Linked DNA regions of Homo sapiens: all the other regions are linked to region 3. Evidence: fine-mapped expression QTL. A gene starts in region 3. Each other region holds a variant in brackets. All regions are shown on one strand. Distances are from middle to middle. Region 1 has its middle 16 kb from the start of ZDHHC2. Region 2 overlaps MICU3 (mitochondrial calcium uptake family member 3). Region 3 holds the start of MICU3 (mitochondrial calcium uptake family member 3). Region 4 overlaps MICU3 (mitochondrial calcium uptake family member 3). Region 5 overlaps MICU3 (mitochondrial calcium uptake family member 3).

Region 1 (6,239 bases), 110 kb before region 3:
CCCAGCTACTCAGGAGGCTGAGGCAGGAGAATCACTTGAACCCAGGAGGCGGAGGCTGCAGTGAGCCGAGATCACACTACTGTACTCCAGCCTGGAGTCAGAGCGAGACTCTGTCTCAAAAAAAAAAAAAAAAAAAAAAAGCCTACTGAATTCCTTATTTAGAAAGTCAATATTATCTTTAATTATCTCTTTTAAAATAAAAAATAACAAAATTATATATAGCAGAACAATACATCACAGTTATAGAGCAGAAACTCTGAAAACAGAGAAAGATAAAAACTTCCCATGATTTTACCAATTAGCACAACCATTGTTATTTTAGCTTGTTTCCATCTGGTCTTTTTGTGTGTTTTCTTTTTAGAGTTGAAATGATAGCCTACATACAATTTTGTGTTCTCATAAATATTTCATTACAAACATTTTTTTCATGCTGCTATACAGGCTTCAGAATTATTTTATTAAATTAAAAAAAAAGTTTTTTGAGACAGGATCTTGCTCTGTTATTCAGGCTGCAGTGCAGTGGCATGATCATAGCTCACTGCAGCCTCCAACTCCTGGGCTCAAGTGATCCTCCTGCCTCAGCCTCCCAAAGTGCTGGGATTACTACCATGCCCAGTCTAGAATAATTTTAAATATTTGCACAGTATTCTATTCTGTAGAAGTACTATAATTCATTAAACCATTCCTTTATTGTTAATTATGTAGGTGTTTTCTAATTTTTCACTGGCATAACATACCATAAATAACTTGGCTCATCTAACATTCCCCTTCTATTTAGTTGTTTTCTTTGGACAGGGCCCCAGAAGTAAAATTAAATCAAAGAGTCAGTTTGAAAAACTATGTAGCTGTGATGATTTTAAATATGTGCACAAATTCTTTGATACTTCGCCTTTCAAGAAGTGAAGGCTCATCCCCTACCCTTGAGTGCTGAGTGGACTTAGTGTCTTAGTCCATTCTGGCTGCTATAATAAAGTATCATAAACTAGGTAGCTTCTAAACAACAGAAATTTCTTTCTCACAGTTCTGGAGGCTGGGAAGTCTAGGATGAAGCCACTGGCAGATTTGATGTCTGGTGAAGGCCAGCTTTCTGGTTCCCTCAAAGATGATTTTTCTCTGTACTCTTACATAGTAGAAGTGGCCAACGCGCTTGCTGGGGCCTCTTTTATAAGGGTGCTAATTTCTTTCATGAGGGCTTCATCCTCAGGACCTAATCACTTCCCAAGGCTCTGATATGGTTCAGCTGTGTCCCCACCCAAATCTCATCTTGAATTATAGCTCCCATAATTCCCACGTGTTGTGGGAGGGGCCCAGTGGGAGATAATTGAATCATGGGGACGGTTTCCCCATACTGTTCTTGTGGTCATGAATAAGTCCCACGAGATCTGATGACTTTATAAGGGGAAACCCCTTTCACTTGGCTCTCACTCTCTCTTTGCCTGCTATCATGTAAGATGTGCCTTTTGCCTTCTGCTATGATTGTGAGGCCTCTCCAGCCACGTGGAACTGTGAGTCCATTAAATCTCTTTTTCTCTATAAATTATCCATCTTATGTATGTCTTTATCAGCAGCGTGAAAATGGACTAACACAGGCTCCACCCCTAAACGCTGCCATCACCTAGGGGTTAGGGTTCCCACATATGAATTTTGGCAGAACACAAACATTCAGACCATAGCACTTAGTGACTCACTTCTAATGAATAAAATAAAGCAGAATTAATAGTGGGAAATTTCAAAGACTGGTTCAAAAAAAGACACCACGGCTTCCTCCTCAGCCTCACATCACTTGAGCCGTGAGAAGTTAGCTGCCCTGTTGTCATGAGCAGCCCCATCGAGAGGGCCATGTAGCAGAGGATGGGGGTCGCCATGTGAGTGAGTGTTCTGGAAGTCAGTCCTCCAGCTGCAGTCATTCCTTCTGATGCCTGTAGTGCGAGCCAACAGCTTGACTGCACCCTCAGGAGAGACCTTGAGTTAGACTCACCCAGCAAAGCTGCTCCTGACTGACTCAGAAACTGTGGGAAATAATGTTTGTTTTCTTAGGCAGCTGCAATTTGGGGTAATTTGCAATGCCGCAATAGATAAATAATACAGCAACAACGGAACTATTGTTTTGGAACATTTGTTTAACTCGGTTCGAACATGAGGCACTTAATGAGCATCCCAACTCCAGTTAAACGCAACAAATTACTGCCATTTAAGGTACATGTAAAGAGCCAGTGAGGGACATAGGGAGGACGAAGAGGGAGAGAAAAGGGAGAAGAGAATAAGAGAGGAAGAAAGGAAAAAATAAGTTAGCAAGAGAGGGACATGGGAAAGATGACTACATGTCCTAGTTTAGCTTGGATAGTCCCAGTTTGGAGCACTGTCTTGATGTAATTCTGAATAGAGTCCCTTTTCACTTTCAAAAGTGTCCCGGTTTGGATGATAAATTATATGACCCTAGATATAGGCCAATAATACGCCTTCCCCCAATCCAGTTCTTCGCTTTAATATTCCGTCTTTTCCCGATACCTCGTGCCCATTCTGCTCCAGCTCCACAGCACTGCTCAAGAGTCCTAAATTTCCCACCAAACCATAGTCTCACTGGCACCTCTTCCATGGCTTAGAAGTCACCTCTGTTTACTTCCCAGTACTCTTGCATCACAGTAAGGAATTCATCATGGTGGTTAAGAGCTTGGCTCAGGAATTAGACAACCTGGGTCTGAGTCTTGGTTTTATCCTTATTGCTATATAACCCTAGGGAAATTACTTAACTTCTTTATGCCTCAGATATGAGCTGGGGCATATATTATCTACTCTCTCATAGGAATGTTGAGGATATTAATAACAGTATGTGCATAAAATGCTCAGCATAGTATCTGGCATTATATATGTATATATATGCTAAGCATTTTATATGCATAATATATGTGATGACTGTATGTTAGCTACTATCAGCATTTAGTACCCGAGAAAAAAATCCATCTCATGGAGATGCTTTTTTTATTGTTGTTTTTGAGACAGAGTCCTGTTCTGTCGCCCAGGCTGGAGTGCAGTGGCGTGATCTCGGCCCACTGCAACCTACACTTCGTGGGTTCAAGCGATTCTCCTGCCTCAGCCTCCTGAGTAGCTGGGACTACAGGCGCGTGCCACCACACCC[G/A]GCTAATTTTTTGTATTTTTAATGGAGACAGGGTTTCACCGTGTTAGCCAGGATGGTCTTGATCTCCTGACCTTGTGATCCACCCGCCTTGGCCTCCCAAAGTGCTGGGATTACAGGCGTGAGCCACTGAACCCGGCTGGAGTTGCTTTTTAGTTGCTGGGACATGCATCTTACTAGAAAACTCTCAAGTATGTCATTGTATTTTTGTTTTAATGTTAGGAGGTAGAAAAAGTTAGGAAATGTGTCAAGCAGTAAAGGAAAAGTCAAGCAGACTATATCTACCTTTCAGGCTTGATATGCCTTACTTTGCTTATTCATTCATTCATTCACTTATTTTTCAACAAATATATATTTGTTATCTATCAAATACCAGGCACTATGCTAAGCACAGGATTAAACAGCACTTTTCAAAAAATAAATACCTAGAGCTTTATTCCCATTTCTTAAAGGAAAATCTTACATTAAAAAAAGCTATTGTGTGGCACTACTAAATAAGTAGGGGTTTGAAGCCAAATTTAGAAATTATATATAGACACATATATGTTTTTCTGATGATCAAATCTTTCAAATTGGCTTTGAACAAACAGGAGCAATTTTCTGCTATAAAAAGGAATGTATTTTAGCTTTTGACCTAATGATTTAAAAAAAAAACTAAGAGTGGGAAAATGCAAATTACGTGAATATATAATTTGGCATCGGTGACATATCAGCAGAAGGAGCTGCTGACAGGAAGACAGTTTTTTTTTTCTTTTTAGCCGTAGGCATTCCTCATTTCTGTTTTTAGGAACAAGGAAAACTAGTAGACAGAAATATCCCTGGGTACATGGACTACATATTTCACATGCACAGCATAAAATATTTAATAAAACGAAGGAGGTGCCTGAAAAATCAAGACTTCAATAGATGAAGGTGGTCACAACAATTAAAATACATCCTTTCTTCCCCCTCATGGCACAGGATAATGAGGTATGGAAAAAACATGTAGGGTTGCTTTAAACTATTTGGCAATATTTGCCAGATGAAATTTTGAAAAAACATTTTCTTTTCAGCGTTTTCATTCCACTTGAATAATGAGTACCACATTATAGGTTTCGATAGCCCATGAATTTTTATCTTTATTTTAATCGTTAAGGTCAAGTTAGCATTGATTACTAATAAGTGATTCTAAATGAATAGTATTATTTTAGGAATAATAGGAACTAACGTTTATTAAATGTTTACTGTGTGCTCAGTTCAGTGCTTTAAAGGCGATTTCCCATTTAATTCTCACCACCACCCAAGGACACAGCTGCTATCATGATCTCATCTCACACATGAAAAAGCTGAGAGGTGGAAAGTGTTACGACCTTGTTTAATTACAAAGGAAGTTAGCAAAAGAGCCAAGATTGGAACTCAGAGAAGTCTGACTCCAGAGCCCATGCTTACCCGCCATGCTATTCTGAATGGAAGGGCTCATGTAGTTCACCTGTTTATTCATATTTTCTAATTTGTTCTTTTTGAAATAGTGATTCCTGTTCAGATTCCACTTTTAATCCTTGCCCATTTTCTCAATTCTATGAAAGGCTCATTTAACTTAATAGTTATGCAAGTCCACACCTGTCTGAATGATACACTGGCTCATTCATTTAGTTGAAAGGTAGACACCAAATTGATTTTTAAAAAGACATACGAACCTAATTGAAAAAAAATTCATGAATCACCTTAATGAGGAATTGGTACCAGGAAATGCAGTACAGAGAACCTCAGACAATTTGCTTTTGGAAAAGCGCTAATCAACCACATATTCATCTGGAATGAAAATGCCTCTCTAGCAAGACATTGTGTGATAATGAAGTACAGGAGGTGAGAGCCGTCTCAGTGACTTTTAATTATTTCTCATTCTTCTGTGTCTGAAGACGATGGTGCGTATATTACCGAAAAGTGAGGTGACCAGTATTCTTTCCAGCATTGGGTAAATTAAAGACAAAGTGGACATCATTTGCAAATTCTTGCATTTTTTTCTTTGCAGCTGTTGTTCATCATTTCCTTCCCTAATTTGTTCCAAGATTAGCTGACTTGTCACAGTCATTTCCTCGTGGTCCACCACCCTGCCATGACGGTTGAAGGTATGTTCTGTGTTCTTTAAACCTCTATTTCTTTTTTTCCGAAACAGCTTCTGCCTCATTCAAAATAAAAACATTATAACATCTTGCTATTATCTATTTTACATACATTTACATTCTGCTGGAGTTACACCCTTTTTAATGCAAACCTCTTTGGAATTTGGTTGTTGAGTCCCTCATTCTTATTGATGAAACTCAAGAAATCAGATCAGACATCATAACTCTTTAAACATCAAATTCTCTTAAGAGTTTATCACTATGTGGGTGACATCTTTGGTATCATGAGCATTTTTACCATCTTAATATTCCTTCCTCCATTATAATTCTGAGAAAATCAAAATCCACTTCCATGTAATAGAAAATATTACTCTTGGCTGGGCATGGTGGTTCATGCCTGTAATCCCAGCACTTTGGAAGGCTGAGGCAGGCGGATCACAAAGTCAAGAGATCAAGACCATCCCGGCCAATATGGTGAAACCCTGTCTCTACGAAAAATACAAAATTTAGCTGGGCGTGGTGGTGCGCACCTGTAGTCCCAGCTACTCAGGAGGCTGAGGCAGGAGAACTGCTTGAATCTGGGAATCGGAGGTTGCAGTGAGCCGAGATTGTGCCACTGCATTCCAGCCTGGCGACAGAGTGAGACTCTGTCTCAAAAAAAAAAAAAAAAAAAAAAAAAAAAAAGGAAAAGAAAATATTACTCTTTCCCTTGTCTGTTTCTTACCATCCTGTATTTATCCAAACTTAGACATACTTACACACTTGGATACTGGCCCAAATTTCCATATCCCAAGAAAAGATGGGCTACATAGTTTTTGAAGCCCAGTGTGAAATGAAAATACAGGGCCCCCTTTTTTTTTTTTTTTTTAAAAAAAAGCAGGAAATAGTGTGGTTTAAGGTATTAAATATAAAACTTTTTTCTTCCTTCCGTGGTCTGTCTCTCTCAACTTGTCGTAGTGTTTTTATGTGCTATTTAATATCATTCTAAGTAAATAAAATTTAAA
Region 2 (5,000 bases), 41 kb before region 3:
ACAAATAATGATACTTATAAAATATTCAAACTAGAATATAAAATAACATTAACATAGATAAACTATAATTTTAAGGTATTACTTGTGATCTTTGCTATACTAGTGTTCCATGACGTAATTCACAGGTCAGGTCTCTCTAGGATGAAGAAGGATTGGGGAAAGAAAAAAAGAAAGGAAAGGGAGGCTAGGCAAAGTGATGGGGAAACTTGTCCTGTTTCATTACTCTTCCCTACAACTATTCAAGAAGCATCACTGGAGTAAGAGTGTTACAGCTGAATAAAATGTCAGGGATCACTTTCTTTTTGTGATTCCTCCTCACACCCCCAAAGATCTCAAACACTGTAAAACTTAAAATGTTGGGACAAATGTATAGTCAGTATTGCTATTTCCTTTGCTCACATTTGAACACTGTAAATATTTAATGCCTGCCTAAGAATTAGCACCAGGTTTACATTTGATTAAGCCCTGTAATACAGCTGTATTAGGAAACTGGTTAATATTAATTATTTCAGCTACATTACAATAATGCCAACCAACATCTTCTTCTACCTGGCAATGGGGCTATTTCTGTATAATTAACAATATATCAAATTCAAAATTACAAAAAAAGCAATTTTTGCTGTGTAGTTTTTTCTTTATTAGGCAACAAAACAACTCAATTTAAAATCAAAAGAGAAGAAATATGTTTCTAAGGATAGATTTCTTCTTTATGTAGCAACAACATCCTTCATCTATCCAAGATAGTTGATACAAATGTGTAATCAAGTGATTCAAATCACAGGTCTACAAATTAGAATTTAGCATGTAAACTTAACTATGACACTGGTGCAAAGACACTTCCCTTTTAACAATGAACAGAACAATACAAATAGTATTTATTATTCTGTTGCTCTTAAAATATAGCAGTAAGGAAAGAAGAAAAATAAATGGTAGAAAAGTACATGCACGTGCTCTTATGCAATGCTCAGAAGGTATTTATCGGAAGAGGAAGTTAGAGGTACTCTTGAGTTTTGCAGGGTTTATGAGATTTCCATGGTAAATTATTCACAAAAGACATATTCATTCTGTCGGAAATGTCACCATGTTCAATACTATTATCTTTTTAAATAAAGACTAAAGAGCCATTAAGATTGCTCTTCAAAGGATTTTCTGAATTCCTTATTTCATATGAAGTTACTGCACATATAAATATAACTTAGGTGAAGAAGGACTTCAATTCTAGTGGAAATATTATTTCTTAAGCTGTAGGTTGATGTTCATTATATTTTTAATACGTTTTTGTATGTCTGAAAAATTTAATATATTTTTAAAAATCTAAATTAAAATAATTCTTGATGCTATGTTGGAAAATAATTACTGATTTTAGTTCTAGAAAAGAAAGTCACCATTTAGGTTCTATTTAAGTATGCAAAATAAGATTATAATGCAAAATCATAATCAACAGATATCTCAACATTTATTTGATCTATAATTTTTAAGCAAATATTTACACAGCATACCATTTTTTCCCTGTTGAATGTCATCATAAAATGATATCAAAAACTTTCAAAAATAATGGCTATGATTTTAAACAGCGAAAAAAATGGTGTGCCGTGTAAATATTTGCTTAAAAATTATCACAGCTATGGGCTGGGCATGGTGGCTTACGCCTGTAATTGCACCCCTTTGGAGGCCGAGGCAGGAGGATCACCTGAGGTCAGGAGTTTGAGACCAGCCTGGCCAATATGGTTAAACCATGGTGAAACTCCAGCTCTGCAAAAATACAAAAATTAGCTGGGCATGACAGCAGCTGCCCGTAATCCCAGCTATTCAGGAGGCTGAGGCAGGAGAATCACTTGAACCCAGGAAGCGGAGGTTGCAGTGAGCTGAGATCACCCCATTGCGGTCCAGCCTAGTTGACAGAGCGAGTCTCCTCTTGGGGAAAAAAAAAAAAAATCATGGCTATGAATTCTGATGACGATGATGATGACATACCAATATTAAATGTTTACTGTGTGCCAGGTACTATACTAACCATAATTCATTCGATCTTCAAGAAAAACTTCATGAGGCTGTTATTTTTATAAATGAGGAAACAGAAGATTAAATAACCAAGTTTTCAAAGCCAGTAAATGCCAAGGTTTAAACACAAGTCAAATTTCATTACGCTACAGTTTTAACATATCTGATTTAATACTCAGTACATGAAACATTGTTCTATTCTTTTCCTTTTCTAAAACCCCAACTTTCAAAACAGGATTTATGAATATCTTGATCTTTTGTGATTGTTCCTAATTATGTTTGAAAAGTGCTGGTTAGAAATTAACTGAAGTTGTGGTTGTAAAATATCCTGTATAACTTTTCTATAATAGAAACCAGTTTTTTACTCTTAAGTTATGGTTTTAAAATATCTATGAGAAGAATCACCACAAAAGTTATTTCCAAAAAGCAAAATCGAACAGTGTGCTTCCAGTGAATGTATTCTGAAGAAAAAAATTCTAGAAAATAATGAAGTAAAATTTTTCAAAATATGAAACTGTGGCCAGGCACAGTAGCTCACGCCTGTAATCCCAGCACTTTGGGAGGCTGAGGCAGGTGGACTGCTCGAGCCCAGGAGTTCAAGCCAAGCCTGGGAAACATAGCAAAACCCTCTCTCTACAAAAAAATTTAAAAAATTAGCTGGTGGCATGGTGGCATGTGCCTGTAGTCCCAGCTACTTGGGAGGCTGAGGTGGGAGGATCACTTGAGCCTCGGAGGTTGAGGTTGTAGTGAGTAGTGATCACGTCACTGAACTCCAGCCCGGGGGACAGGGCAAGACCCTGCCTCAAAAAAAAAAAAAAAAATCTATATATATATATATATATATA[TAG/G]ATTATTAACAATCACTTAAAGAATAGCTTTCAAATATGTTTGAAAAAATTATAGAATTTGATATAAAATACCATTTAGCATCTAACAAATTCCTTCCTTCAAGAAATATTTATTGTGTACCTATCATGTGCCAGGTAACCATATTCTACCTTGGAGATGGTTCTGTATCTTACGTCGTCTTATAATATCGTAAGTTTCCTGAGTGCACAGACTTTGTATCCCCCTTAGCACACAGAAAAGAACCTTAATACAGAAGCAGACATATAAATATTCCATACATTTTTATTTAATTGATTTGGTACAACATGGTCTCTATATTTATTAGCAAATTAGTATTAAATCTATACTAACTCACTAATAAAGAATCTACATTGTACCAAATGGATTAAATAAAAAGGATATAACACTTATCACAGCCTTAAAATTCGTAAATAAAAAAAAAAAGAACTCTACTTAATTTTTCACCTTTCCCATCACTATATGGCCCTACATATTCCCAAAGTGGCTACTATGACTATACCATATACTGTCTTGATTTCATGTTTTTGCTTATGTAGTTTACATTTCTTTAAACGTTACTCTCATAGTTTCTTGTTAAAATCTTTTTTTTAATTTAAAATCTTGCATAATCAAAAGTGTCTACTTCAAATTCCATTACAGCTACCTTTCAGTTCCTTTCTCTTTTGCAATCAAATATTGTAAGAGAGTCCTTTACACTCATCGTCTTCATTTCTTCATCTGCTACTCACTCCTGCAATTGCCCTAATGACTCCACTGAAACATCATTTTAAAAAACCATCAATAACCTTCATGTTTTTAAATCTAGTGGACATTTTCCTGTTCTTATCTAACTTGAATTCTCAGTAACACTGCACTCAATTGGCAATTCTGGCTATTTTACTCGGCTTCCATGACTACATACCCTTATGATTTTCTTCCTATGTCTCTGGCCACTCCTATGTCCCCTTTTCTCATCCTTTCAAAGCCTTTTGTCCATTCATCTTTTAAAGAGCAGAAATTCCTCAAGGCCTAGTCTTTGGTTATCTATATTCTCATCCTATACAGCTTCCCTAGGCAATTTCATTCATACACATTCTATGAATTAGCAATAATGCAAAGATGAATCCTAAATATATACCTGAATCTCTTCCTTGATATCCAGTGGAAATAATCCAAAGAATCAAAAATTCATTAAAAGTTACTATGTCAAGTAGCCAATTTGTCAAATTATTGAGGATTTATTTTAAGGTTCATTTTTGCCATATTGCTGTCTCTGGAGGAAAAAATGGCTATAATTGTTCTAGTCTAAGTTAAAGTATTTGTGTGACAGTTTAAAGTAGATATGGGTCGAACAAATGATTATTTGTTATACTGATTTTTAGTGAGTGATCTTTCAGTGAAGTGAAATGAATTATTTTTTAAAAAAATACACTGTATCCTTTTATATATCCAAGGTATCTCAAATAGACATGACCAAAATTGAAATTGTGATTTTTCTCCTCAAACCTGGTCCCTAGTGCCATCCATCCAGGTAAGCCAGCCAGAAATCCTCGGTTCTCATTACTCTTTTACCACCATCTATAGAGACTTTTGAAGCTGCAACTACCACCAGCCAATTGTGATACAGTATCAAAGGAGAGTACCTATAATAATCTAAAAAGGCAATTAAAATACTCCTTTTTTTACTGTCCATGTCTGTGAGGTAGATTTTCTTCATATATTTCATGGAAAACAACATATTATAACAGATCAAATAAAAAAGCACACATGAGAATACAGCTGTCTTCTGTTAAGTTAGATATTAAGAGATTTGCAAGAATGTACATACTTCCAAAAATTTTGAGAACCATTATTCTAACATATGAAAAGGTGAGAGACAATGAAACTATTAATATATTTACACTGCAGGAGCTATGACAAACGCAGAAGAGATACAGGTAGAATTCTTGCCCAGGGCTAACCTCAAAGCCAGTCCTCTGAACTACTCTGTTCAGGTTTGATATAAGAATGAAGAGGCAGAATATGAGTCTTTTATAAAGAGTATCAAAAGTAAGATGGTGTTAAGCTGAGAAAGATGGAGCAATTGAAAGTTTCTGAAAAGAGAAGAGATGTGAGTAAGAGTTTGTAAGAAATATCAGTCTGTAACACTGA
Region 3 (6,038 bases):
AGCCAAAAAATAAATTTATTTAATGTTCTTTAGTAGTACCATTGTTTTAAATATACTGTGTTAACTCATTTAACTCTCATAACACCCCAGGAGACTATTAGCCTCATTTCACAGGTGAGGAAACAGGCATTGACAGGTCAAGTAATTTCTCCATAATGACACAAGTAGCAAGTCGTGGAGCCAAAGTTCTAGCTTTCTGAACGTGGTCTTTTTAAAAACTGCAAGATAACATCTCTCAACTGTAAAAGTAAAATTAATTTTAAGAAAGAAAAGAAAATACTACTTGAATTCCCTACCTTGCTGATCTGTTCCTAGACCAACTATGGTTAATTAAAAGTTCTGCCATCATGAAAAACGCTATGCTCCTTGCCAAGCCACAAAAGTGGATGTGTATTTGTGAAGGGGGAGGGGGTGGAGATTTGAGGGTATTTCCTAGTATTTTGAATATTCATGTGTAAAAGGACTTTATGTTATGTGCTTGTGATCTGCTGCTAGATAGTCCATAAAGCAGATTCCGTAACCTAATTGCATTGACAACCTCCACCAAAGGAAATGATGCACTTACATCAGATCACCACTGCGTATTAAGAACAAAGCCTATAAAAATTGCATTAGAAACAGCATAGCTCTCTGTTTTCTAAATTATTTTCATCTACGCCGTTCACATTCTTCGAGCCTTGCAAGGAAAATCTCCTTAATTTTCCTAGTCATTTACATGACTATTAAATATACTGATGCGACAAAAAAAATCACGCTCCTTTACTCACTGTTGCCTTTCACACATCTTTACCTTGTATTATTAACTACATAATGACAGTTGAACATTTTCACGTGACTTTCTTCTGTAGGAGTTTGTGTCATTCACAGCCTCCTACATTTGCTATCCTATCCATTTTGTGTTTTATCGTTACCTACTAACGGGATTCTGGCTTTAGTGGGGGAAGGAAAAAGAGAGAAATACTTATGTCTCTTTTTGAACAATTTTTTATTTCTTTTCAGACCTGGTAACATCAACATTCCCTGGGTATGATAAGGGCGTTAGCATGCAGGTTTAGCATTTCCTTTCTTGGGACTAATAAATTCTCATATGCTAAAGTAGTGGCTTTTGAGATCTCAGACCGCTGCTTCGAAACTCATTCTAATGCAACAGACCTCCTGGGTCATTAGCTGTCGCCCCGCGCAATCTAGGAGTTCCTTTTTCCCACACCTACAGCGGTCCACTTTCTGCCTGTCATGGCCTTCATTTCTGAATCTTTTTTTGTAAGAGGGGGAGGGGTGTTGGTTTTGGGTTTGGATTGATACTTGGTAGCTGCAGCCACCTTTAAGGTCCTGATGCATCAGGGACAGCATCACTGGTCTTCCCAATACGTGGGTGACCGGATCCTAGGCTGTCCGGCCTAGGTGTCAGCCTCGCTCACGGGAAGTTCCTCACCCGCGGCCACAGCGCTTGCACCGTCCCCACAGCCTCCAGGGTCCTGCGTACCCGGCACGAAGGTCACATCCCCCGCGCAGGTGTGACGCGCGCTCGCGCACTCACCGTCTCCTTGGCAGCCGCCACTGGGATGGGCAGCATCCCCCGGCCGCGGGGCGGGTCCTCGGGCTCCGTGGCCGCGCTCTTTGAGGGTCGCCCGGTCGCCGGCGAGCCGGCCCTGGGGTCCCCGTACAGCTGGTAGCATACCAGGCCGACCAGCCCCCCGCCGGCCGCCGCCGCCACGCTCAGCTCCCCCCAGCGCCGCCGCCGCCTCCATGCCGCCTCCGCCACAGCCCTCTCCTCATCCTCTCGGGAGGAGAAGGGCCGGCCAGGAAGGCCCAGGGTGGTCACCGCAGGCCGCCCCCACGGCCCAAGGAGGGGCTGGTGAGCGCAGAGTGGAGGAGACACCCGGGGTGGCGGCCACAAGAGCCTTCGCAGCGCAGCCATAGCGGAGGCCGCCCACACCAGAGCTGGGAGGGGGCAGAGAACGGAGGGGCGGGGGCGGGGGGGGGGGTCGCCGAAATCTCGCGAGAAGTCGGTGCCGCGAGCTTCGCGGCCGGCCGAGAGCGACCCCTACACTCGCGCGGCCCCGGGGACCCGCGACGCCACCTTCAGCGTAGCGGTCCCGTGGTTCGGCCCGGGAAGATCATGGAAGAGGCGGCGGATCCCGGCTGCTCCCCGGCCCCGAACCCCCAGCCCAACCACGCAGTCATAAATAACCGCGCCAGCCCGGCGACACCTGGCTACGCGACAGCGCGACACTGCGGGCACAGCCGAGTCAGCGTAACTGAGGCGCGGCCGAGTGCGGGGCTCTCTGGGGCCCGCGCCGCTGCTACGGGCGGGGTGGGTCTCCGAGCTGGGCTCAGCGCCCGTCTGGGACACTCACATTCCCTAACGGTCTCCTGACCTCAGGAAACTCAAGGTCTTGACTCAAGGTCGTGAACGATTTGCAATTGTATCTTCACATATACGACACAAATGAGGTATAAGCATTTGGCTCAAGTCATAACGATTGCAAATTAAGGCAAACACTTTGACGACTGAAGGGCAGCTTCCGGACTTTTGATGGGAGAAGGCTAATGCTGTTTTTTAGAAGCATTAGCACACCCGCGGTCACTTAATTCAACAAATCAGAACTGTCTTGTGCATATAAAAGTTAAAAATTTTAAAACTTCTGTGAATAAAGATAAAATCTTGAACGATACCCTGATTTTTCAGGGAAGCGCTGTTTGTATAAATATAAAATAAATGAGAAGCGTATTGTGTCATCTTTTTGTTTTTACTGTACTTTTTGTTTGCTATGTTATCAGTATCAGTTTTTATGAGAAAGTGTAGATGAAGTTCCTATCAGTTTCTCTCCCCAGACCCCAGTTTTGGTAACTTGAATTATGTTAGCTTTTTCTTCCTACTATGGAATGGTGCCAGGAGTCCCTAAAATATTGTGGATCTAAGGGGACAGACAACTAAATACAGTGGTCTCAATTGGGCTGCAGTGACAAGAGAATACACCATCAGTTGATTCTGGCAATTCTTGTAAAGACTAAAGGCTTTCAGAGACGACCAAATGAGTTTTTTCTGGCTCAGGTCCTACAATTTCTTCCCTTTTTTTTTTCTTTTTTTGAGACGGAGTCTTGCTCTGTTGCCCAGGCTAGAGTGCAGTGGCACATTCTCGGCTCACTGCAACGTCCGTCTCCCTGGTTCAAGCGATTCTCCTGCCTCAGCCTCCCGAGTAGCTGGGATTACAGGCACCCGCCACCGTGCCTGGCTAATTTTTGTGTTTTTAGTAGAGATGGGGGTCTCACCATCTTGGCCTGGCTGGCCTCGAACTCCTGGAGGTCCTGCAATTTCTATTCCTAACACCTTGCATGTAAATAGCACATCAGGTACACCCTGTTACCTCTTATTTTAATAGAGGTTAATGGCATTTTGCTTTCTTAAAGCTGCTAAAAGCGGTAAGAAGAAAAATCTTCTGTAGCAGATGAACAAATTTTGTGTATTTTAAAACCTGTCTCTGAGTTTTCTTCAGTTTCAGCCTGTGGGTTTTATGGAGTCAATGCCTAAGGAAGACTCTGATAGCGTCTTGCTTTATCACCAAATTTTCCTCAATTTATGCTTTCTCTATATTCTGTGAAATGGTAGTTTCCCCAAATAAATTATCTTCTGGGTAATAATTATATATATTATATATAATATAATAATCATATTGGCCGGGCGTGGTGGCTCACACTTGTAATCCCAGCACTTTGGGAGGCCGAGGCGGGTGGATCATGAGGTCAGGAGATAGAGCCCATCCTGGCTAACACGGTGAAACCCCATCTCTACTAAAAATACAAAAAACTTAAAAAAAAAAAAGCCAGGTGTGGTGGCATGCGCCTGTAGTCCCAACTACTCAGGAGCCTGGGACAGGAGAACTGTTTGAACCCGGGAGGTGGAGGTTTCAGTGAGCCGAGACTGTGCCGCTGCACTCCAGCGTGGGTGACAGAGCGAAACTCTGTCTCAAAAAAAAAAAATTATAATAATAGTTCTGACACTGTTTACTTTGAACTGAACATGATTTCCTGATTTTCTCATAAATTCTTATTATAGTCTAATGCCAGAATTCTTGGACAAACTGATCAATTTTTACTAGTTGCATGTTAAAAGCTAAGTAGTTCTAAAGAAGATTAGGGAGGTAATACAATAACATCACATTACAGATGAGGAAAATGACATCCTTCATCTAAGATGACAAATACAGACACATACGTATAGATTTCTATGTAGTTTCTCTATAGTTTTCTAAATTTGATAGAGCTCCTGCAAACAATTTATCTGGTTAGAAGCTAAGTACTGCTGTGAGAAGGGCTAAGTTTATGTTTGTAGATCAGTCAGAGAACTTTGGATAAAATACCTCTCACGTGCAAAAACAGCTTTACTAATAATTTTCAACAGTACTTTCCCTCTAAAGGTGAAATTTCCTTAAGAATAGTTACTGTTTTCTTCCCACGTTTGATGCTCTGTAACTATAGCTACACAAAAATAACCAAATTCCCTTGTTATGTGGATATTTTTCTGAGTTTAATTCCCAGAGGAAAAATTTTAAGAAAATATGATATTAGGAATTTGGAACCTTTTTTTTTTGAAATTTCAGGTAATATTGTTGGATCAATATAGAGTCAACCCAGTATCCCTTATCTTTTATGTCAATTCTACTGAGCATTAAGAATAACCCCCAAAATGCCCCTACTCCACAGTGAGAGCCCACACCTTGAAAGAAATATCCACTTATCGTTCACTATGGTCTAAATAAAAAGAAATGTTCTGAAACAATAAAAATGTTTCAAACAATGGGGATTAAGCCAAAAAGGGTTTTCCAGGAAAGCATATACCTCAGTGAATAAGTAATAAATTAGAAGTGAAGAAATCTGGACTCCAGTCTTGGATTTGCTGCATCTTAATTATAATGCTTTGGAAGCCACAGTCTCTAAAATAGTGGAGTTGAAATAGATGATCACCCCTGAACCCATCTTTCTAATGAACTAAAATGCTCCAAGTGTATCAGTAAACCATAGAAAGATACTTCATGGTATTTTTCATGTATCATTTCTCTTCTGAAAATCTACAATTGGCCTAAGATTGTTTTATTCTTTCAACTTAAAATTCCATCCCCGGACCACGCAGGCTAACGTCTGTAATCCCAGCACTTTGGGAGGCCAAGGTGAGTTGATCACTCAGGAGTTCGAGACCAACCTGGGCAATATGGCAAAACTTCGTCTCTACAAAAAATACAAAAATTAGCCAGGCATAGTGGTGCGTGCTTATGGTCCCAGCTACTCGGGAGGCTGAAATAGGAGGATGGCTTGAACCGGGGAAAAGGAGGTTGCAGTAAGCCATCACTGAGCCACTGCACTCTAGCCTGGGTGAGAGAGCAAGACTATGTTTAAAAAAAAAAAAATCCATTCCTTTATCTAATTATTTTAACCTTCTACTGCATTTAAAATTGCAAATACGTTAGTGATTTTGAAAAGTTTGAAAAAGTGGAATATAAGTGCAATAGGCAGGAATGTCTTGTTTAACAAAACTTCTATTAAAATATACTGCATTCCTTATTTTGGTCATTCTGAGCTCCAGATTCTTGACTAGTTAAAAGAGCAGCAGTTACATCTGAGATCTGTATCAGGGCACATGAACCACCCCATCCCCAGGTCCACTCAAGTCTACCAGCAGAGAGCAAGGTTGCAACCATCTTCTTCTCTCTTGGGAAAGTTGTCATCATTTTCTCAAATTGCCTTCCACCTTCCATGCTGTCTTCCTTAGGGCAAAACTGACATAGGAGACAGTGTTGGGGAAGGTATGTTCTTGCTCTGTTTTCTTCAAAGTGCTACCCACCAGCAATCTAGAACTCAATTCCTCAGCATCCAGGGCTATGGAAACCAAGTTACACAAGACACTGAGGGTCTGTTTTCTGTTTTGATGAGCTCTCATTCCCAAAGACTGTGATCTGTATCTCACCCTTTTTCCATTAGGCAAAGCCAAGCTGACTCTAAGCAACATGAGGCCAGGGTATGCATCTTCTAGCCCAGTTCCT
Region 4 (5,000 bases), 24 kb before region 3:
CATTTATAATTTTTAAGGCCTCTAATTGTACAACGATAGTTACCAGACTATGGGAAGGGTGAGTGGGGGTTGGGGAAATGAAGACAGATTGGTTAATGAGTACAAACACAGTAAGATAGAAGAAATTAAATTCTAGAGTTCAATAGCACAGTAGGGTGACTGTAATTAATAATAAAATTCAAATATTTCAAAATAGCTAGAAGAGAAGATTTGAAATGTTCTTGACACAAAGAAATGATAAATGTTCAAGGGGATGGATAACCTAAATACCTTGATTTGATCATTACATACTGTATGCATGTATCAAAATATCATACACACCCCATAAATACATACAAATATTATGTATCATGATAAAAAACAAAAAAAAATTTAAGTCTCTACTTGTATTATTATAGTAGCTTACATTATAGGGTTCTTTACAAGTTTATAAAGTACTTTCACATACATCATCTCATTATTTGATTGAAAGATGACATAAATGAAAGTCTTTTTCTCTAGAGGCAGTATAGCATAGTGGTTCAGCATGTAGACCTCCTCTTTTCCTGCCTATTCAGACTTTGGTTCAGCAATACTGCCCTGGCCCTGCCAACCTATTTTTTCCTCTTCCACTGTATACTTCTCCTTCAGCATAACGCACGGTGCTATTCCTCCCACCTTAGAAAGTGCCCTGTCCCTCCTCTCTATTTAGCTACCTTTGCTCTCCTCCCTGCCATTTTTCTCCTTCCCTTTACAGCAAGGCTACTGGAGAGTGTTGTTTACATTTCCTCTCATTCTCTTTTGATCTTACTCCAGCAAGGCTCTCTTCTCTACCATGCCACCAAAACTGCTTGTCAAGGTCATCAATGACCTCCTTGTTGCTAAATCCAAAGGTCACTTCTCAGTTTTCCTCTTATAGCATTTGACACAGTTGGTGGCTCATTTCCCCTTGAAATCATTTATTTTCTGTTTGTAAGATTTCACTGTCTTGCTTTTCCTCCTATCCCTCTGGGTATTCCTGTTTGGTATTTTTGCTGGTACTTCCCAACTACACTGCCCTAGGGCCAATCCTTGGACCTCCTTTCCTCTTTTAAATCTACAATTACCCACTTGATGATCTCATCTAGCCTTCAAATATTATAAATATGCTGAGAAATACAAAATTTGTCTCCTGCATTCCACAATATAAATTCCATGAACGCAGGAATTGTTTACTTGGTACACTTTAGTTTCCCCAGTGCCTAGAAGAGTTTTTGGCTTCTAGCAGGCTCTCAACTATTTGCTGAATAAATGAATAAGTGAATGTGGGTGTAAAGCTTACTATAATTGTTAAATGGTGATTGCTTTAAAAATTAAAATATAAAAAAATTAAAACATAATATTAAAAAACCAATACCTATGTGGTACTAATACTGTAGCTGACTTCAGAAAAATATAAGGTGGGGAGGGCCATGTAATAAAACATGTTCAATGAACTTTTTTGGAATAAAAAATTTTCTGATACTGATTTTTCCTCAAGTTTCAGATGTATATAAAAAACCATTTAAATGTTATGTGTAACCAATTGAAGACCAGAAACAGGATGCATGACTTTCAAACTACTCGAGGGAGAGAAATAATAAGAAACTGGACCAATCTAATGCCAGGTGATAAAGTGGTAACACATGCTCATAATAACACAGCAAAAATAAATGCAAACATGTTCTCAATCACAATAAATAGGATAGGTTTAAACCCCCCCATTGAAAAAGAGCAACTCTTATACTGCGTTTTTTAAAAAGCCATAAAAATGTCCCCTACAAGAGTCACTGTTAAACATTACCCAGAATGTTAAAAAATACATGGAATTAAGAGTCAAAAGCATTAAATGGGACAAAGAAAAACTCACCAAAAAGATATTACACACATGAACTAAACAGCTTAAAATTACATAATGGAAAAACTGTTAGAGAATAGCAATGAAAATTTATCAGTTCACAATCATGGCTGAGACTTGAATAGATCTCAACTAGAAATGGACAGATCAAATAGAGAAGCCAAATAAGAAAAAGGATCTGAGTAACAGAATAAGGTGCTTGTTAATTTTG[C/T]TTTTAATAAACAGGGACTATATAAACTGACCATTTATCAATCTTCACAAAAATATCAATAAAAATGGAAATTATATCAGTTTAATGAAATATTAATAAAGTGGTATATTTTACAGTAGTGAAAGTAAATTAACTAGAAGTACATGTGTCAATATGTATAAATTTCCTAAATATAATATTAAATAAAATATATACATTATAGAAGGACATATTATTTTTAAAATTCACAAAAATATATGTATATTGTTCAGGGATACAGCACTTGTAAGAAAACTGCTCATTACTTACTACATGTAGAAGTAAATCTTAGCGTACCATTCTGAAAGATAATTTTAAGTTTCTATTAAAATTTAATAGCTATAGATCCGACAATTCAATATTTGCATGTACTTAAGATCCCTGGATAGTCACTGCAGCATGTTTCCAATAGTGAAAAAATAGAAACAATCAAAATTTCCAGCAGCAGGACAATGGTTAAATAAATTATGGCACACCCATGGAATAGTTTGTGACTATGGAAAGGGGTATGGTAGATCTAGAGGTGCTACCATAGAAACAGTCACAAGATACACACTAGGGTGAAAAAAACAGGTTGTAGAAAAATGAGTAAAAAAACAAAAGTTCATGTCTTATAGGAATATATGTATGTAAAGATGTAGATAAATTTTGGAATGGAGTATTATTTTTTAAAAGGCAAGCAGACATATATTATTAGTGCAACTGTACAAAAGAGTTAACTTAATCTATAGGGGCCTTCAACAGGGTCACACAGGCAGCAAATGGGTCTGGGACCAGAACTTCAGTATTACAACACACAACCCAGTGTTTTTTCACATTACACAACTTGTTATATTGGAATGAAAGTATATGGGTTTTGCAATCCTTCCGGCCTACGTTCAAATGCCAGCTTCATCCCTTCCTAGTTAGGTTACCTTGGGAAAAATAACTTAACTTTCTGCAAACTTTAGCATTTTCAACTATAAAATGGACAAATAAATACTAAGCCCACAAACTGTAAAGATTAAATGAAAACTACATGCAAATACTGCCTTTTCCCTTGGCCCACAGAATCAAGAGACTCTACCTCTTGATGTACTATTAACTAGCTAGGTCCAGAAATAGTGTTTGGCTACTCAACTCCAGGCACAAAGTTTATAAATATCTAGAACCTCTGTGGCACTATAAGTTAGATATTCTCCAAATATGTCCAAGGAGATAAAACTATTCCTACTGTCTGGCTTTTTCTTGTGGGTTTCACTGCCTCATGCTCTACCACCCTTCCCTCGGTCTTCCTGGCTCAGTGTCCCAGGATACAATGGAACACTAGGCATAAATGGGTTAAAATTTTTACTTGAAGAGTATTGTTTAGAAATTTAGTCTCATCATCGAAGAGAAAAGTCTGAAATGTTCCCAGTCTGAAATATTCAGTTACTTATGAAAGAAGAGAAAACGGCTGACGTTCAAAGAAATGGAGTAAGTTATCCATCCCCGAAATACAGAACTGTGTACTGTTTATTTGCATGGATCCATAATAAGCTCATAAATTCCCAGCATATTACAGAGTATATGCACCCAGGCCAGGTTCAAAGACAGGTTGGGTGCCTTGCTCACGTCGAAAATCTCAGCACTCTGGGAGGCTGGGGTGGGAGGACCACTTGAGCCCAGCAGTTTGAGACCAGCCTGGGCAACACAGTGGCAACCTGTCTCTACAATTTTTTTAAAAATGTATCAGCTGGGTGTGGTGATGTATGAGGTAGTCCCAACTACTCAGGAAGCGGAGGCAAGAGGATATCTTGAGCCCAGGAGGTTGGGGCTGCAGTGAGGGGTGATCACACCACCATACTCCAGCCTGGGTGACAGAGTGAATCCCTGTCTCAATAAAATAAAATGAAATAAAGAAGTGGTAGTTGTGAAGAAGATTCAATTCAAAATCTCATCTTGAATTGTAGCTCCCATAATTCCCATGTGTCATGAGAGGGACCCAAGGGGAGGTAACTGAATCATGGGGGTGGGTCTTTCCCACACTGTTCTTGTGATAGTGAATAAGTCACACCAGATCTGATGGTTTTATATAAAGGGGCGTTCCCCCGCACATGCTCTCTTTCCTGCCTCCATGTAAGATGTGATTTTGCTACTCCTTTGCCTTCTTTAAGGCCAGTGAATTTCTATTTCATTTTTCTATCGTGTTTTCTTTTTCTTATTAATTTGTAGATCTACACATTTAGGATATGTAGTCCTTGTGAGGGCTATGTACTATAAATATCTTTTTCCATTCCAGGACTTCTTTTTATTTTATTAAATATTTTAAATGAAGTGAAATGTAGTAATATTTTCCATTCTAGGTTTTGCTTTTTATCTTGTTTCGAACATCGAAACATATATATTCCTCTAAATATCTCAAAGTTTTACTTATCACATGTAGGATTCTAATCCACCTGGATAATTATGACATGAAGAAGGGATCTTGGTTTCCCCCATGAAACACTTTAACTCGTCATGGCCCACTATCTTGCGTATCAGTTGTTCACTATTTGAAATCCACTTCATTGTAACTTCTTTTAAAATAATAATAATTGTTGTTGTATACAATCAATGGTTAAGAACTGCTCTCATTTTTACTAATTTCTTTGTTCTCCATTGCTTCTTGAATTTCACCCCTTTTTATGTTAATTCATTTCATTTCTTCCTGATATGCACTCTTCAGTGGTTCTTTCAATGATGATCTGATACTGGTAAACTCTCAGTCTCTTATGAAAATAAATTTATTTTGTTCTCATTCCTAAATAACTTACCGAGGTATAGAAATCTAAGTGGCAGTTATTTTCTCTCACTTTTGAAGATATAGCCCACTGTCCTCTGGCTTCTGTCTGTTGCGATGGATTCGTCTATAATCAGGTCAACTGCAGTCCCTTTGTAGGAAGTCTGTCCTGTCTC
Region 5 (5,000 bases), 55 kb before region 3:
ATAGTTTAAAAGAAAGATGATAAGCGCTCTTTCCCGTAACAAACCTCCTTCTTGCCTGGGGACTAGATTGCCTTTGTAGGACTAACAAATTAGCCACAAGATTAGAAATTATGGTTTAGGAGTCATGCAGCTGGAGCTACAAGATTCTGACCCTCCCTAAATTGCTCCTGGGGATAACATCACTATTGTAAAACCTAAGACCTATGCTTGAGATGTTTTGCAGACCCCACACTTGATGGATCAGCTGTCACTACACAGAGCGATAAACTGGCTCATCTGGTCTTGTGGTCCTCACGCAGGAACTGACTCAGCTCAAGAGAAAAGCTTCAACTCCCTATGATTTCATCTTTGACCCGACCAACCAGAGCTCCTGACTCACCCACCCACTACCCACCAAATTATCCTTAAGAACTCTGATCCCTGAATGCTCGGGAAATTCATTTGAGTAAAAATAAAACTCCAGTCTCCTGTACAGCCAGCTCTGTGTAAATTACTCTTTCTCTGTTGTAATTCCCGTCTTGATAAATTGGCTCAGTCTAGTCAGTGAGCAAGGTGACAAGTCCAAGAGAAAAAAATATTTTTTGAAATACACATATGTGAGTGCATGTACACATTCCTTGTTCTCAAAACTTACTGTAACAGAACTCAATGTTAACGTCATTCCTCGCTAAGTTACAAAGTTAAGAATAACACAGTGGTGTGAATTTTTTAATCAAAGAAGTACAAGGTATTTTTAGATTGTTTCTAATGACAGAGTTTTACTGATGTTCTTGTTTCCATGCATCTCCACATATCTCCACAACTGGAAATTCCACTAGCAGTATTCTTTCATGTATTCCTTTCTTCATTCATTCACTAACTACTTTTTGGAAGGGTACCATGTGCGAGACACTGTTCTTGATACAGAGATGAACAAAAAAGAAAAAATCTTTGCCATAATGGACCTTGCATTCAAGTGTGGGGAGACAAGAACATGTAAACCAATAATACTTTCAAATAGTCTGATATGAAGAATATGCAACGCAGTAAAGAGATACAAAGAGAGAGGGAGCTATGTTAGAGAGGCTGGCCAAGTAAGGATTTGCTAAATTTTCACATTTGAAAGGAAACCTAAATGATGTTTATTATCACGGGGATCTTGAGGATAAGTACTGATGGCACAGGAAGCAGAAGGTACAAATCCCTGAGGCGGCAATTCAAGGAATAGAAAGGCCAGGTGGCTGGAACACAGTAAACTATAACAGATTGTCTCCATTAAATGCAAAGAAATTTAACTGAAAACATAGTAAACCCTTCATATATTTCCTAAGAAATGCTGCACCTGACAGGGAGAAAATAGAAGTTTTAGATGTGAATGATGGGTATTCTGATAGACTCAATAGTTAAGAGACACTCTCTCTCACATCAGTCTGGCAGAAAATATGATTCAAATGAGTACAGTAGGGAATTTATAAATTATTACATGTCATGACCTTTGGAGTCTGAGGTAGATTAAAACCACAAGAATTGACACGTAATATTAAATTTATAATTTATGAGCATTTATTACTATACCATAAGCTGTAGCATTTATGTTTTTGACTCTTTACAGTGCTATGCTTAGCATTTTTCTGTAGCATTAAACATGAATTTTGCAGAACAGCATGGATATTGATTTTCAAGAGTAAGAGAACCTAAGATCTGCTTTCCAAGATTCGTTTAAAAAATAAAGCTGCATCCAGAAATAAAAGCAATAAGTATACTTACTTGTTAAAATACATAAAAGAAAAAGATATTCTGTGTAAGAAATCACACCTACAAGAAAAATAGTATCAGTTATATATATAAAATATTGTTCTAGAAGCAATAAATGCTATAAATAATGAGCTTGTAGTTTAAAATAGATGCTAGATATTATTTTAAATGACAATCATTATTATAAAATCATAACAAAAGAAGCAACAAATTTAATTTTACTTTAATTGTTCCACATGCCTTTGTAGATATCCATATAAAATCATTATGCTCTCAAATATATTGGCAAAAAAAGCAAAATTATAATGCATACGTATAGCAGTAACTTTTAAACTTGTTGCTAGTTTCTAATGTACGACTCTTAACACAAAATAAAAAAGTTGTCAAGTCCAACAGAGCTTAAAGGAAAAAACAAGTAAAAATAAAAAGGTTGGAAATAGTTAATTAACACTGTAAAGTGCTTAATTACTTTTTAGTAACACTTGGATAAAACACTTAGACCCTGTTACTTAGAAATGTGATGTTTCGCATTTTAAGAGTAAAGCTCTATAGTTACCACTTTTCTGCTTTCAAATTATCTTCAATGCTTCT[A/G]TTAAATGTACCCTGAGGAGTTTTTATTGTAATTAAATGGCTTATACTTTCTGTACATCGCATCCTGAGTTCTCAGTAACTCCATACTTGCAAATTTCAAAAGGAGTGCTTTTGAAGTAAATAAAAAAGTGCATTCTGTTACTTGAATTCTTGCTTTTGGAATACAAAACCCAAAACTAGATTTAGTGCTTCAACTGACCTTCCAAGTAGATACTGAGAAGATTGACATCAGTAATCTGTATCTACAATACTTATTTAGATATCAGATAGTTCTGACGCTTGGTAAAAGGGTATAAAAATCCTTAAAATAACCAGATTGTGAACTTTAAAACTCCATTTTATCTGATGTTCTTTGAGGCTGTCTTCTTTGTTACAGAACAAAGAGAAGAGGAGTCACTGTCAGGCAGTTTGTCAGAGACATGAAGGGCACTAGCCAGGAGGCCCTGAAAGCATTCATTCCCTTCTTTTGTTTATACTAGAATATTGTGACCTATAGACAGATAGTTCTGGTTGATTGCCATGAATGTTATGGGAGAAAGATTCTGGAATGGTCAATGTATATAAAGATACAATACTTAAGAGTCTGTAGGGATCCCTCAAAAAATGAAAGAAGAGCATAAAAGAAGGGGCGAGAAAAGGAAATGGGATGGGAAATGGGCATGCTGTCTCCATAATCCCATCTCACTAACTGTTGTTCTAGTTGACCTGGTAGAATACACAAGAGATGTTGGTTGGTATAAAGAACTTTAATAACTGTTATGCATCTTTTATTTGATAGTTAACTCAAGATTTCCCTCAAGGAAAGGACTACTTAATAGTGAGTGTCCAGACCATGAATATCATGGTAGGCGTTTGTCTGTAGGATCACATGGTGATTGAAGTGGCTTAAACCACAGGGAAGAAAAATGAAGTGAAACCCATGATATATTATAATTTAATAAAAATGGTCAAGGAAAAGAGAAAATACTACTGAAGATGAACGGTATATTTTTAATGCTTTCCAATTATACAAACAGAATACTATAAAACTAACTCTTCAATTTATTTATGGCGTGCAGGATCAAAAAATACAAAAAAAAAAGCTAGGCATATAGTAATGGTGTGATCTTTAGAAACAGAGGATAAGAAAGATGCCAACTAGGTTTCTTTCGAAAATTCAATCAAAACAAATTTTAAGGGAAGTTCCTTAAAAGCATTACATGGTTTAATTCCTATACACAATACATTGCAGTTGGCTGTTATAATTAAGTCTCTACAATACATGTTTTCATGAATGCATATCAATTTTTTTATTATTTAAATGCATAACATTTTCTCTCGAGGTAATATTTTAAGTAGATAAACTTACAATTTTAAAATTAGTCTTTAGCCAGGCATGGTGGCTCACACCTATAATCTCAGCACTTTTGGGAGGCCGAGGCAAGAGGACCGTTTGAGTCCAGAAGTTCAAAACCAGCCTGGGCAACAAAGTGAGACTTTGTCTCTACAAAAACTCAAAAAATGAGGGGGAAGAATCGCTTAAGCCCAGGAGGTCAAGGCTGCAATGAGCCATGATGGCACCACTGCACTCCCGCCTGGGTGACAAAATGAGACCCTGACTCAATAAATAAATAAAATAAAACAAAAATAAAAATAAAATTAGTCTTCAATAGCTCTAAAGATTTAGTCTTAAAATTTCTCTGCCACTTAATCGCTATTTAAAAAAAGCAAGGCTCTTCTAACTTCTCTATTTTACCTAACCTAATGATTCTAAAACTTTCTGGGATCATGCATCACCCTGATGATCTAATTAATATGATACAGATACGCATTGTACTACAGGGTGTAGCTATTTAAATTTAAAATACTTAAAATCAAATACAACTAAAAATAAGTTCCTCAGTTACGCTAGACACATTTCAAGTGCTCAACAGCCATATGCGGCTAGTAGCTACCATAAGAGACAGCATAGAAACAGAGTATTTCCGTCATAGTGGTGCAGCATAGATTCTATCCCCTGGGGAAAAAAATGCAAACATGTGTATAACATGAGAAGGATTAGGATATGCCTAAACCTAGGACTTCCAGATTAAACCCTCCCCTTAACTTAAAAAAGGTTCTTTCTTCTATGCATTATTTTTCTCAGATTATATTTGATCCAATTTGTATTTTCCCATGAGGTATATTAAGAAAAATGTTTGAAATTCACCATACTTACTTGATCCTTATGAGCTTTGAATTTTCCTCATCCTATTATCTCACCCTAAGATCTGAATGGCAATCTTTAAGACAACATCTAGGAAAAAAATTTCTAAGATTTTTTTTAAGACACTTTGGCCTAGGTTTCTTGAAGATTTAAAAATCTTACTTATGAAACACCTACAATAAAAGATATGGTGTCTCTTCCTTTCAGATTCTATGTAAACCACGTGGAAGCAATATGAACTTTCTAATTCTACTTAAATAAAATATATGAATTATAACTACTCCTTCAAAGTATTTGTCTTCAGGCTGAAGTACATTATTTTCAAGCCAATATTGGTTAAAATTGATGAAAAGGGAAAATATAACTGCTTATGTAATTTCTTTAACATTTTTATTTTGCATATTCCTGTATTTGAGGATACAAAAAATACATTTCCAAGAAATATTACTTTTTAAGATTAAAAAGATTAATAAATTTTTTCTACAAATGT

What was found.
Region 1: its variant is fine-mapped to the expression of MICU3 in whole blood (INTERVAL, PIP 0.99).
Region 2: its variant is fine-mapped to the expression of MICU3 in whole blood (INTERVAL, PIP above 0.99).
Region 4: its variant is fine-mapped to the expression of MICU3 in whole blood (TOPMed, PIP above 0.99).
Region 5: its variant is fine-mapped to the expression of MICU3 in whole blood (TOPMed, PIP 0.99).

The regions. Positions count from the first base shown.
Region 1 is chr8:17,137,386-17,143,624 of GRCh38, reverse strand. It overlaps a transcript of MICU3 not described here. Among named protein-coding and RNA genes, the nearest start is that of ZDHHC2, 16 kb to the left of the region's middle. The variant G/A (reference allele first, on the strand shown) is at 3,137.
Region 2 is chr8:17,064,366-17,069,365 of GRCh38, reverse strand. The region is part of intron 2 of MICU3 (mitochondrial calcium uptake family member 3); the gene reads right to left. Among named protein-coding and RNA genes, the nearest start is that of MICU3, 40 kb to the right of the region's middle. The variant TAG/G (reference allele first, on the strand shown) is at 2,847.
Region 3 is chr8:17,023,160-17,029,197 of GRCh38, reverse strand. It overlaps MICU3 (mitochondrial calcium uptake family member 3), which reads right to left and starts at 1,960. Exons shown (of 15, transcript NM_181723.3): 1 at 1,538-1,960. The coding sequence starts at 1,918. RefSeq lists an enhancer at 1,333-1,422 and a silencer at 1,573-1,982.
Region 4 is chr8:17,047,576-17,052,575 of GRCh38, reverse strand. The region is part of intron 1 of MICU3 (mitochondrial calcium uptake family member 3); the gene reads right to left. Among named protein-coding and RNA genes, the nearest start is that of MICU3, 23 kb to the right of the region's middle. The variant C/T (reference allele first, on the strand shown) is at 2,067.
Region 5 is chr8:17,078,487-17,083,486 of GRCh38, reverse strand. It overlaps MICU3 (mitochondrial calcium uptake family member 3), which reads right to left. Exons shown (of 15, transcript NM_181723.3): 5 at 1,747-1,794. Among named protein-coding and RNA genes, the nearest start is that of MICU3, 54 kb to the right of the region's middle. The variant A/G (reference allele first, on the strand shown) is at 2,326.